Homo sapiens: one gene and its partners. The protein of the gene in region 3 interacts with the protein of the main gene of each other region in a biochemical or structural test. Each region holds a gene or a part of one and is shown on either strand. Other genes may lie near its edges. The genes, in order: MCF2, G6PD and CDC42.

Region 1 (3,831 bases), on a different chromosome or scaffold from region 3:
CACCATTAAAAAGTGGGCAAATGACATGAACAGGCACTTTTCGAAAGAAGACATACAAATGGCCAACAAATATATGAAACAATACTCAGCATCACTATCATCAGAGAAATGCAAATCAAAACCACAATGAGATACCATCTCACACCAGTCAGAATGGCTATTACTAAAAAGTCAAAAAACAACAGATGCTGGCTGGCAAGGCAGCAGAGAAAAGCAAACACTTATACACTGTTGGTGGAAATGTAAATTAGTCCAGCCGCTGTGGAAAGCAGTCTGGAGATTTCTGAAAGAACTTAAAACAATTCTACCACTGGACACAGCAATCCCATTACTGGGTATGTACCCAAAAGAAATTATTCTACCAAAAAGACACATGCACTTGTATGTTCATCACTGCACTGTTCACAATAGCAAAGACATGGAGTCAACCCAGGTTCCCATCAGTGGTAAATGGGATAAAGAAAATGTGCTACATATACATTATGGAATACTAGGCAGCCATAAAAAAGAAAGAAATCATTCTTTGCAGCAACATGCACGGAGCTGGAGGCCATAATTCTAAGCAAGTTAGTGCAGGAACAGAAAACCAAATACCACATGTTCTCATTTATGAAGGGAGCTAAGCATTGAGCACACATGGACATTAATATGGGAACAACAGATATTGTGGACTACTAGAGGGTGCAGGGAGGTGGGGAGGATAAAAAAAAAAACAACTATTGGGTACTATGCTCACTACCAGGATGACAGGATCTGTACCTTAAGCCTCAGCATCATGTAATATTCCCATATGACAAATCTGCACATGTACCCCCTTATCTAAAATTAAAGTTGAAAAAAAATGAAACAAAATGACATTGAACTTCTCAATAGCAACACTGGATTCTACAAACTAATGGAAAAATAAACACAAAATCAGGGGGGAAAAGGTTTTTCAGCTTGGAACTTTATACTGCGTCAGACTCTCAAACAAAAATAAAGGTTGTCTAAGATATTTTCAGACATAATTATTATTATTATTATTATTAATAAAAGTTTATAACCCATATAAAGAAGTTAGTAGAGAATGTATTCCCCAAAAAAATGATGAAGTACATCAATGAAGAGCAAGACAATGAATCTAGGAAATAATGATCCGATACAGGAGCACAGACAAAGGGAATTTCAGAAAGAGATGTGCAGCTAGCCGGCAGAGTAACCAGCTCAGATGAAAAAAGAAGGATGGAGGGCTCTGGGAGGGAGCTGCTCCCATCCCTTTCTACCTCTTTCTCACCAAGTTTGGTGAGTTTTCCTTAGGATCTTTTTGGGCCCCTCAAGCAACTTTCAAGAACCTTGCATATCAGAGAAAAAAAGGGTTGGAGTTTCCAATCCTTTCATTCTGAGAAGACCTCTAGGTTCTTCATATAAACAGTCCCACTCCTTCCCCAGAAACTTTCTACCTCCACAAATAAATACTATAGAGGCAAGAATAAAATGTGGTTTTGCCTCACTAGAGACCCTGCTTTAAAAAATGTGAGAAACATCACCATATTCTTTTGGAAGATTGCCCTCAAGACCTCCCATTTTTCTTTGCTCTCCAAGTCTACATCCCCCCGGCTACCTTCTGGGGACCAAGGTAGTTCTTCTTGGTCTGGAAAATTTGCGTGCTTAAAAAGAACTGGACACAAATAATGGAATGGTCTTTTACCCACTGAAAATAAATAATCTGCTGTCCAAATTTATAAGCCAACCATATGCAAGTTCACAAGGCAATTTCTCAAGTCCTAATCCCTAGACGGCTCAGAGACTGAGGCCCATACATTGCATAGGAACCACACCAAGGTACAGCCATCCCATGAAGCCCAGGTGCACACCAGATTTGTTATACTAATAGTTCCAGGTTTACAGTGGTGAAGTTCTAATCCAGAGTTGAGAAATTCCCACCTGCCTTTACTTGGGAATCCTAATTATTTTAGAAAAAACTGAACAGTAGACAAAGAACTGTCAGAGAAACCCAAAGCAGGCTATTGCGGTCTGTATGGACAGATACACCTTTACAAGAACTGCACTGTGTCCTGCAAATCATTGGTCCTAGAAATGGGGGATTCTGGGGAAAAGGGGAAACTACTACAAGAATGAAAATGACTGGCTATGGGGGATGCTATCTATAAAAATATTCCAAGACTGACCCACTCATTGCCCCAATCCATTTCTTATATTACTCTAAGGTAAAGAAATACTTACCACAAATGTTTGTCCTTAAGACTGTCGCAGCTCATTCTGTTTCCTCGGCCAAAAGAATGTACAATACTCTCTGCCTGCTCCAAGAACAAAAGCCTTCTTGCTCTTAACATGAAAAAAAGTTTCAAAGCCAATCTGATGTCAGCAACTGAAAGTGTAGAGAAGCCTTGACTTGAAGTAGAACCCAGAAACAAAATTATAAATCATACACTGTATCACAGTAGAGGAAGGAGACCTAATTTTTTTTTTTATTTACAAGGACAAATCTGGAGAAACAGAACGCCCACTCAAGAGTTAGCCCGACAGTTTGAAAACAAAATACTTCTGCACAAAATGCAGAAGAAGCTGGGCATATCTTTTTTTGTACACGACAAATAAAAATTGTATGGTGTACAATATGATTTCTGATGTATGTATACATCCTGGAATGGCTAAATCAAGCTAATTAATACTTTCTTTACCTCACATATGTATCCTTTTTGTGGTGGGAACATGTAAAATCTACTCTCTTAGCAGTTTTCAAGTACACAATATATTGTTATTAACTATAGTTATCATGATGTACAATAGGTTTCTTGGCAGGGCGCAGCGGCTCACACCTGTAATCCCAGCACTTTGGGGGGCCGAGGTGGGTGGATCACTTGAGGTCACGAGTTCGAGACAAGCCTGGCCAACATGGTGAAACCTCATATCTACTAAAAATACAAAAATTAGCTGGGTGTGATGGCGGACACCTGTAATCCCACCTACTCAGGAGGCTGAGGCAGGAGAATCGCTTGAAGCCAAGAGGCAGAGGTTGCAGTGAGCTGAGATCACACCACTGCACTCCAGCCTGGGCAATAAAGTAAGACTCCATCTCAAAAAATATATACAAATAAAAATATGAAAAAAAATTTAAAAATTAAAAAATAGATCTCTTGATCTTTGTCCTCCTGTCTACGTGTAATGATGCATCCTTTGACCAACATCTCCCAAAACCCTGCCCCATCCTCTGGAAACCACCATTCTACTTTCTACTTCTATGAGTTTGACTTTTTTAGATTCCCCATAGGAGTGAGATCATACAGTATTTTTCTTTCTGTGTCTGGATTATTTCACTTAGCATAATGTCCACTAGGTTCATCCGTACTGTCACAAATGACAGAATTTCATTCTTTTTTAAAGGCTGAATAGCATTTGTGTATATATAGTATAGTATATATAGCATATACTATATACATAGCATATATAGCATATACTATATACATAGCATATATAGCATATACTATATACATAGCATATATAGCATATACTATATACATAGCATATATAGCATATACTATATACATAGTATATATAGCATATACTATGTATATAGTATATGCTATATATACTATGTATATAGTATATATAGCATATACTATATACATAGCATATATAGCATATACTATATACATAGCATATATAGCATATACTATATATACGAATGCTATTCGTATATATATACACTATATAGACACGAATGCTATCATTCATATATATATATATATATATATATATATACAGTATATATAAAAAATATTTTCTTGAGGTTGCTTCCATATCTTGGCTATTGTGAAGAGTGCTGCAATG
Region 2 (3,209 bases), on a different chromosome or scaffold from region 3:
CATGTCTCCTGGGAGTTCCTGATGTGGCCTTATTTGGAAATAGGAGGTCTGCAGATGTCGCTGAGTTAGGACATAGAAGTCACACCATGGGGAGGCCACGAGAAGACAGGCAGAGTGAGTGGAGTGAGGTGACCACCAGCCCAAGATGCCTGGTTCCCCAGGAGCTGGAGAGGGCAGGAAGGACCCTCCCCTTGGGCCTCTGGCGGGAGTGCTGGATCTTGGACTCTGGCCTCCAGAACTGGGAGAATCAGCCTATGTTGAGAGCTGCCCAGTGTGTGGCCCTTCTGCCTGGAAGGGGTGGCTGGGCCTGGCTGTGCATCACTGTGGACTGTCCCCTCTCCCTTGGCCTCTGACATCAGTCACAAAACCCATCCCCTCTCCTTCCTAAATACTTCTGTGGACTGGCAGTGTTGCTGGAAGTCATCTTGGGTGGGGCAGGGACATGGACAGTAAGAGCGGAAGGTGACCCCACATCCTTGCACCTCAAGCTGGTCTCACAATGACAATATGCGTGGAGCGGAGGAGGACTCAGGAGGTGTCTCTGACACCAAACATGGTCATGGCTGGACATGGGGTCAGAACCAGAAGTGAGGAGGCTCCTCAGTGGCCACAGAGGAAGCACCCGGGTGACTTGGGGAGTGGGACAAGGAAGTGGGTCCTCAGGGAAGCAAATGACAAGGGGACAGGAGGGGCTGTTTGCGGATTTAATGGCAGGGCATTGAGGTTGGGAGGGGTCCCAGCTGCTGCGTCTGCTTTTCTTATAGCAGAGAGGCTGCCTACGGGTGGCACGGGGTGGCCATGGAGTGCAGAGTTGGTGGGACAGGGGACATCCAGGGGGCTCGAGATGTTGCTGGTGACAAGGAATGTCAAGTGGCACTGAGGCTGGCGGGCAAGGCCACAGGCAGATTCTCTCACGTGGGTGCTCGCCCCTTTCCTCCCCCTCGTCCCTCCCTCCCACCCTGGCCCCACTCAGGAGTGAGACCCAGTGGCCAATAAGCTCTGGGACAGACGAATGGGCGCCCTCCTCCTTCCTTCTGTTGGGCTGGAGTGAGTGGAGGAGGTGACTCAGCTCCTGGGCTCAGGCAGGGTCTGGAGGGGCCAGGATGGTCTCGAGTGCTTGGCAGCTGAGGAATGTAGCTGGGCTCGGGTAGTAGCAGCAGCGAGGGGCGGGCCAGGGTGGCCAGAGCCCGGGGCCAGGAATGTGCAGCTGAGGTCAATGGTCCCGGAGTCCTCCCGACTCGGGGTCGGGCGGCGGGAAGGAGGGTGGCCGTGGCGGGGGTGGAGGTGGGTGCCCAGGGCTCAGAGCTTGTGGGGGTTCACCCACTTGTAGGTGCCCTCATACTGGAAACCCACTCTCTTCATCAGCTCGTCTGCCTCCGTGGGGCCTCGGCTGGAGAGTGACGGGTGGAGGAGAGGCATGAGGTAGCTCCACCCTCACCCCGCCCCTGCCCGCTGGGCTCTGTCCCCAGCCCCCACCCTTTCCTCACCTGCCATAAATATAGGGGATGGGCTTGGGCTTCTCCAGCTCAATCTGGTGCAGCAGTGGGGTGAAAATACGCCAGGCCTCACGGAGCTCGTCGCTGAGGGGACATGGTATGGCTTGGGAGGCCGGTGGCACACAGGGAGGGAGGGCAAAGGCCACCCCATAGCCCACAGGTATGCAGGGGCCGGCAGCTGGGCCTCACCTGCGCACGAAGTGCATCTGGCTCCCGCAGAAGACGTCCAGGATGAGGCGCTCATAGGCGTCAGGGAGCTTCACGTTCTGTGAGGGAGAGAGTGTCTTGCTGATGCCACTGCCTGCCACCATGTGGAGTCCCCCGGGCCCAGGCCGCCCACCCTCCACACTGCTCCTTCTCTGTAGGGCACCTTGTATCTGTTGCCGTAGGTCAGGTCCAGCTCCGACTCCTCGGGGTTGAAGAACATGCCCGGCTTCTTGGTCATCATCTTGGTGTACACGGCCTCGTTGGGCTGCACGCGGATCACCAGCTCGTTGCGCTTGCACTGCTGGTGGAAGATGTCGCCGGCCACATCATGGAACTGCAGCCTCACCTCGGCCTTGCGCTCGTTCAGGGCCTTGCCGCAGCGCAGGATGAAGGGCACCCCTACGTGGCGGAAAGGGCAGCCTCAGCACCAGCTCTCTCAGGGTGTGGACCAGTGCGTGAGTGTCTCAGTGGGAGCTCCAGTGCCCGCACACAGGGCATGCCCAGTTCTGCCTTGCTGGGCCTCGAAGGCATCACCTACCATCCCACCTCTCATTCTCCACATAGAGGACGACGGCTGCAAAAGTGGCGGTGGTGGACCCGCGGGGCACCGTGGGGTCGTCCAGGTACCCTTTGGTGGCCTCGCCCTCTCCATCGGGGTTCCCCACGTACTGGCCCAGGACCACATTGTTGGCCTGCACCTCTGAGATGCATTTCAACACCTTGACCTGAGAGAAAGCCAAGGGAGAGAATGGGCTCCTTGGGTGTTGAGTTGGGGTGCAGGGATGACTGTGGCCACAGATGTGCAGCCCTCAGGGCAGGAGGAGGCCCCTGCTTGGCTCTGCTCACCCTGCCAGAGGCCCAGCTCAGGGCCCCTCCCTGAGGACCCTCCAGGACCACCCTGGTCCATCTCGAGTCTATTCTGATGAACAAGCTGAGGCCCAGAGAGGCAATGGCCTTCCCTGGTCACATAGTGACTGTCAGGCCTGGGACATGACAACTTGGGCTTCATGACTGCCAGTCCAGGTCACCTCCGGGAGGCCACGCTGTGCTCAGAGGTGGTGACTTCTCCGGGGTTGAGGACACCTGCTCTGCATGCACACCCCAGCTCAGTGCCTCGTCACAGATGGGCCTGCGACAGGGCATGCTCCTGGGGACTGGGGTGCACCCCCTACCTTCTCATCACGGACGTCATCTGAGTTGGTGGAGGCGGGCTTCTCCATGGCCACCAGACACAGCATCTGCAGTAGGTGGTTCTGCATCACGTCCCTGGGGACGGAAGAGGCCAGAGCTCGCCTTAGCTCCCCGCCCTGTTCACCTGGTTCAAGGGCATGGGGACCCCAAACAAGGCTTCCTAGTGACAAGCTGCAAGACTCACTTCCTGATCCCCCTTGTCTTCCAGGTCCCCTTAAATCAAGGAAGGACATGGTGATGCTATCACTGAATCATAAAACCGTGGGGTGCTTGGCTGTGTAGGGGTCCAGCCCTTTCCAGCCCGGTCTGATAGCT
Region 3 (3,500 bases):
ATTACACTAGCATAAGTAGACTTTGGAATGGAAGCCAGCTTTTCTGATTCTTAGTCTAGTTTTGGATATGAACAATCTAGTAAAGGAGGGTTGTTTTTGAGTCTCTTAAGTGTGATTTAAGAAAATAATCTGTTTGGTTTGAGAGCTTAACCACATTCATTCAATTTCTTTGTTCCTGTTTTTAAGAACCGACTTTCCTTTAACTGTCATCTCCCTCATGCCCTTGCTTCTCTTCTTTACATTTAAATAAGCTCTGGAACAATCTGTTAAAACATAAGTCAGAAAATCAGAGTAGGTACCTAAAAGTTAAGTAGGGCTGGTCTTAAAATGTGGCATTCTTCTCCTAGTTGGAAAGCTTTGCTTTTCTTTTTATAGATATCATTTAATTTTAAAATTTTTACTGTAAATTGACAGATTATAGTTGTATATGAAAGCATTGCTTTTCAATTGTAAATTAATTCTAAAGACTCCAGAATTTGTGTTGGGTCTTTTCCCATTTAGCATTGTTAAACCTCCCATTTTCACAAATAACTTCGTACAACCGATATTAGCATATGCTTTACTGAATTTGATAAGGGTTTTATGGTCTATTTACATATTAAGCATCTTGTTAAAGAAGATGTCTTAGATCATGCAGTTTGTGCCCAATAACATGAATTTTACTCATAAAATTCCCAGCTGGCTGGGTGCAGTGGCTCACACCTGTAATTCCAGGACTTTGGGAGGCCGAGGCAGGTGGATCATGAGGTCAGGAGTTTGAGACCAGCCTGGCCAACATAGTGAAACTCTGTCTCTACTAAAAATACAAAAATTAGCTGGGTGTGGTGGCATGCACCTGTAGTCCCAGCTACTCAGGAGGCTGAGGTGGGAGAATCGCTTGATCCCAGGAGGCAGAGGTTGCAGTGAGCCGAGACCATGCCATTGCACTCCAGCCTGGATGACGCAGTGAGACTCTGTCTCAAAAAAAAACTTCCCAGCAAATAATCTGCCAGCTTTTTCTTGGACACTTTGAGTACTTTGAGGGAACCGTTATTTCTCTCAAATGGGCTTGTTTATAACAAGGCTCATCTTTTCTAGGACTCTGAAAGGAAGAAAGGTCATGGATCTAGGATATTTTATTTCTAGATGAAAAGGAAATGGTCTATGAAGAAGTAGTTTCTTAGGAATCAGATTGAATGTTGAGGTAGACCACTGTCTGAAAAGTTTCAAACTTGAACAGGTTCATTTTGTGTAGCTAGAGGACTCTGCTCCTGTGACACCTCTAAACCTTCTCTGGCTCTTTATCCAGGCTGCTGGGGTAGAGCAGAAATCTCAGAACACATCCTTTGTCTTTTTCCAGGAATCATTTAGCTCATGCAAGGACTGGTTGGCAAGATTGGTTATATAAGGATGATGGATGGACTAGGGGACGATTAAGTCTTAGCAAGGAAACACTGCCTTAGCTTAAGAGTTGTCCTGTCCCATTTTAACTCTCTCCTTGCACACTAACAGTGTTGTATTTTTTTGTTTTTAGGTTTTTGACAACTATGCAGTCACAGTTATGATTGGTGGAGAACCATATACTCTTGGACTTTTTGATACTGCAGGTGAAAACTTAATGTCTTTTATACTGTTTTGATCTTTAACAGTTGCTAGTTGTCTGTCTCTTGTGGACATTTTGAGAAACTAGCACATGAGCAAAGTACTTGCCTTTTGTTATTAGTTAGCAGGATTGAATATAATGATTGTCGATGCTTGACCAAGGAGCAGTCCCAGACCTGGGTCGGCAAATAGGAGTTTGGAGTACCCTGGGTGAACAGTGTAGTAGATGAAGTAGAGTGAGACTAGAGTGCATCATACAAGCTCCAAATTGAACTAAAATCCTGATGCGTGCACCTTGCAGAGAACTGGGGACTGCATTAGTGGTTGGGGAGGGACTAAGGGAATGAATTCATAGGAATCATGCCCACTGATTCTCTCCCTTCACCCCTACCTGCTCCTTTTTAAAGCCTAGAGTTTCCTAAATATGCCTAAGGTTATAAGGTCATAAGCCATTTACAGTATTTATTATTATTACTCTCTTGATATTTGAAGGCATATTCAATTTATGTGTCTAATAACATGTTTAGTTTCTTACGATAGATAGCTTATTTTAAACTGTATCTGAAAATATTTTGAGAGTGAACTATTATCTGCTCACAGTATTGACATTTGTCAGCTATCCAAATTGTAAGAACAAATTACTTTCTTCCTTAAATGTACCTAATTCCTCAGTGCTATTTCTTGTTTTCAAGAGTGGCTGCACATCTTAATTTCTGACTTTTCTCTATGTGCCGTCTTATTATCAGCTCAGTTAGCCAGAGGAAAATCTCAGAAAGATATCCTTTAGAGTATCTTTAGAATGTAGGAATTCTAAACTTTGTGCTTTGAGTTACTGTTACTGTTTGCAAGTTAACATGTTGCTTCCATGGAATGTGGTGTTACACTGTGTACCACGAGGAACTATTTGGATTTAATTGAGAACGTGAAATGGAGAGACAGTAAAGATTAGAGAAATTTTTAATACATTAAAATCATAAAAGTAATGGTATATTAAATTTGGAATATAGAGAAAACAATGACCCATAATGTCATGATAAATGAGGGGTTTTCTTCTGTGTTCATTTGTGTCCAAAGGCACAGAGAAAATTTTTATTTTTTTTTTTTGTTGAGATGGAGTTTTGCTGTTGTTGCCCAGGCTGGAGTGCAATGGTGCAATCTCGGCTCACCGCAACCTCCGCCTCCCAGGTTCAAGCGATTCTTCTGCCTCAGCCTTCTGAGTAGCTGGGATTACAGGCATGCGCCACCATACCCGGCTAATTTTTTTGTATTTTAGTAGAGGTAGGGTTTCTCCATGTTGGTCAGGCTGGTCTCGAACTTCTGACCTCAGGTGATCCGCCCGCCTTGGCCTCCCAAAGTGCTGGGATTACAGGTGTGAACCACTGCGCCTGGCGAGAAAAGATAATTTATGGCTACTTGTGGTTGAAAATTAGTATTTTCAGATTTCAAAGTTTATTATTTATAAGCCTTTACATTTTCTGGCGAGTACTTTTGAAAGCTTTTTTGATGCGTAGTGCAATAAAAATCATTTTAAGGCCAGGCGCGGTGGCTCACGCCTGTAATTGCAGCACTTTGGGAGGCTGAGACAGGCAGTTCACCTGAGGTCAGGAGTTTGAGACCAGCCTGGCCAGTATGGTGAAACCCCATCTCTACTAAAAATACAAAAATTAGCCCAGTGTAGTGGTGTATGCCTGTTAAGTCCCAGCTACTTGGGAGGCTGAGACAGGAAAATTGCTTGAACCCAGGGGGCGGAGGTTGCAGTGAGCCGAGATTCTGCCACTGCCCTCCAGCCTGGCTGACAGAGTGAGACTCCGTCTTTAAAAAAAAAAAAATCGTTTTAAGTGTTCAGTGTGATGCATTTTGCTGACCCTCCACCATAATAAAATGTGTAACATTTTTATCACCCCTCAAATTTTCTGTGG

Evidence for each region.
Region 1: the proteins of CDC42 (region 3) and MCF2 form a complex in vitro, tested with the Homo sapiens proteins (2 studies listed by BioGRID).
Region 2: the proteins of CDC42 (region 3) and G6PD form a complex in vitro, tested with the Homo sapiens proteins (one large-scale study listed by BioGRID).

The regions. Positions count from the first base shown.
Region 1 is NC_000023.11:139,705,883-139,709,713, forward strand, and holds the start of MCF2 (proto-oncogene DBL), read right to left. Parts: upstream 2,286-3,831; 5' UTR 2,224-2,285; intron 1-2,223. UniProt on the Homo sapiens protein: Guanine nucleotide exchange factor (GEF) that modulates the Rho family of GTPases. Promotes the conversion of some member of the Rho family GTPase from the GDP-bound to the GTP-bound form. Isoform 1 exhibits no activity toward RHOA, RAC1 or CDC42.
Region 2 is NC_000023.11:154,530,701-154,533,909, forward strand, and holds the end of G6PD (glucose-6-phosphate 1-dehydrogenase), read right to left. Parts: intron 2,970-3,209; coding exon 2,876-2,969; intron 2,429-2,875; coding exon 2,242-2,428; intron 2,103-2,241; coding exon 1,867-2,102; intron 1,763-1,866; coding exon 1,686-1,762; intron 1,581-1,685; coding exon 1,488-1,580; intron 1,391-1,487; coding exon 1,300-1,390; 3' UTR 691-1,299; downstream 1-690. UniProt on the Homo sapiens protein: Catalyzes the rate-limiting step of the oxidative pentose-phosphate pathway, which represents a route for the dissimilation of carbohydrates besides glycolysis.
Region 3 is NC_000001.11:22,080,209-22,083,708, forward strand, and holds part of CDC42 (cell division control protein 42 homolog isoform 1 precursor), read left to right. Parts: intron 1-1,513; coding exon 1,514-1,586; intron 1,587-3,500. UniProt on the Homo sapiens protein: Plasma membrane-associated small GTPase which cycles between an active GTP-bound and an inactive GDP-bound state. In active state binds to a variety of effector proteins to regulate cellular responses. Involved in epithelial cell polarization processes.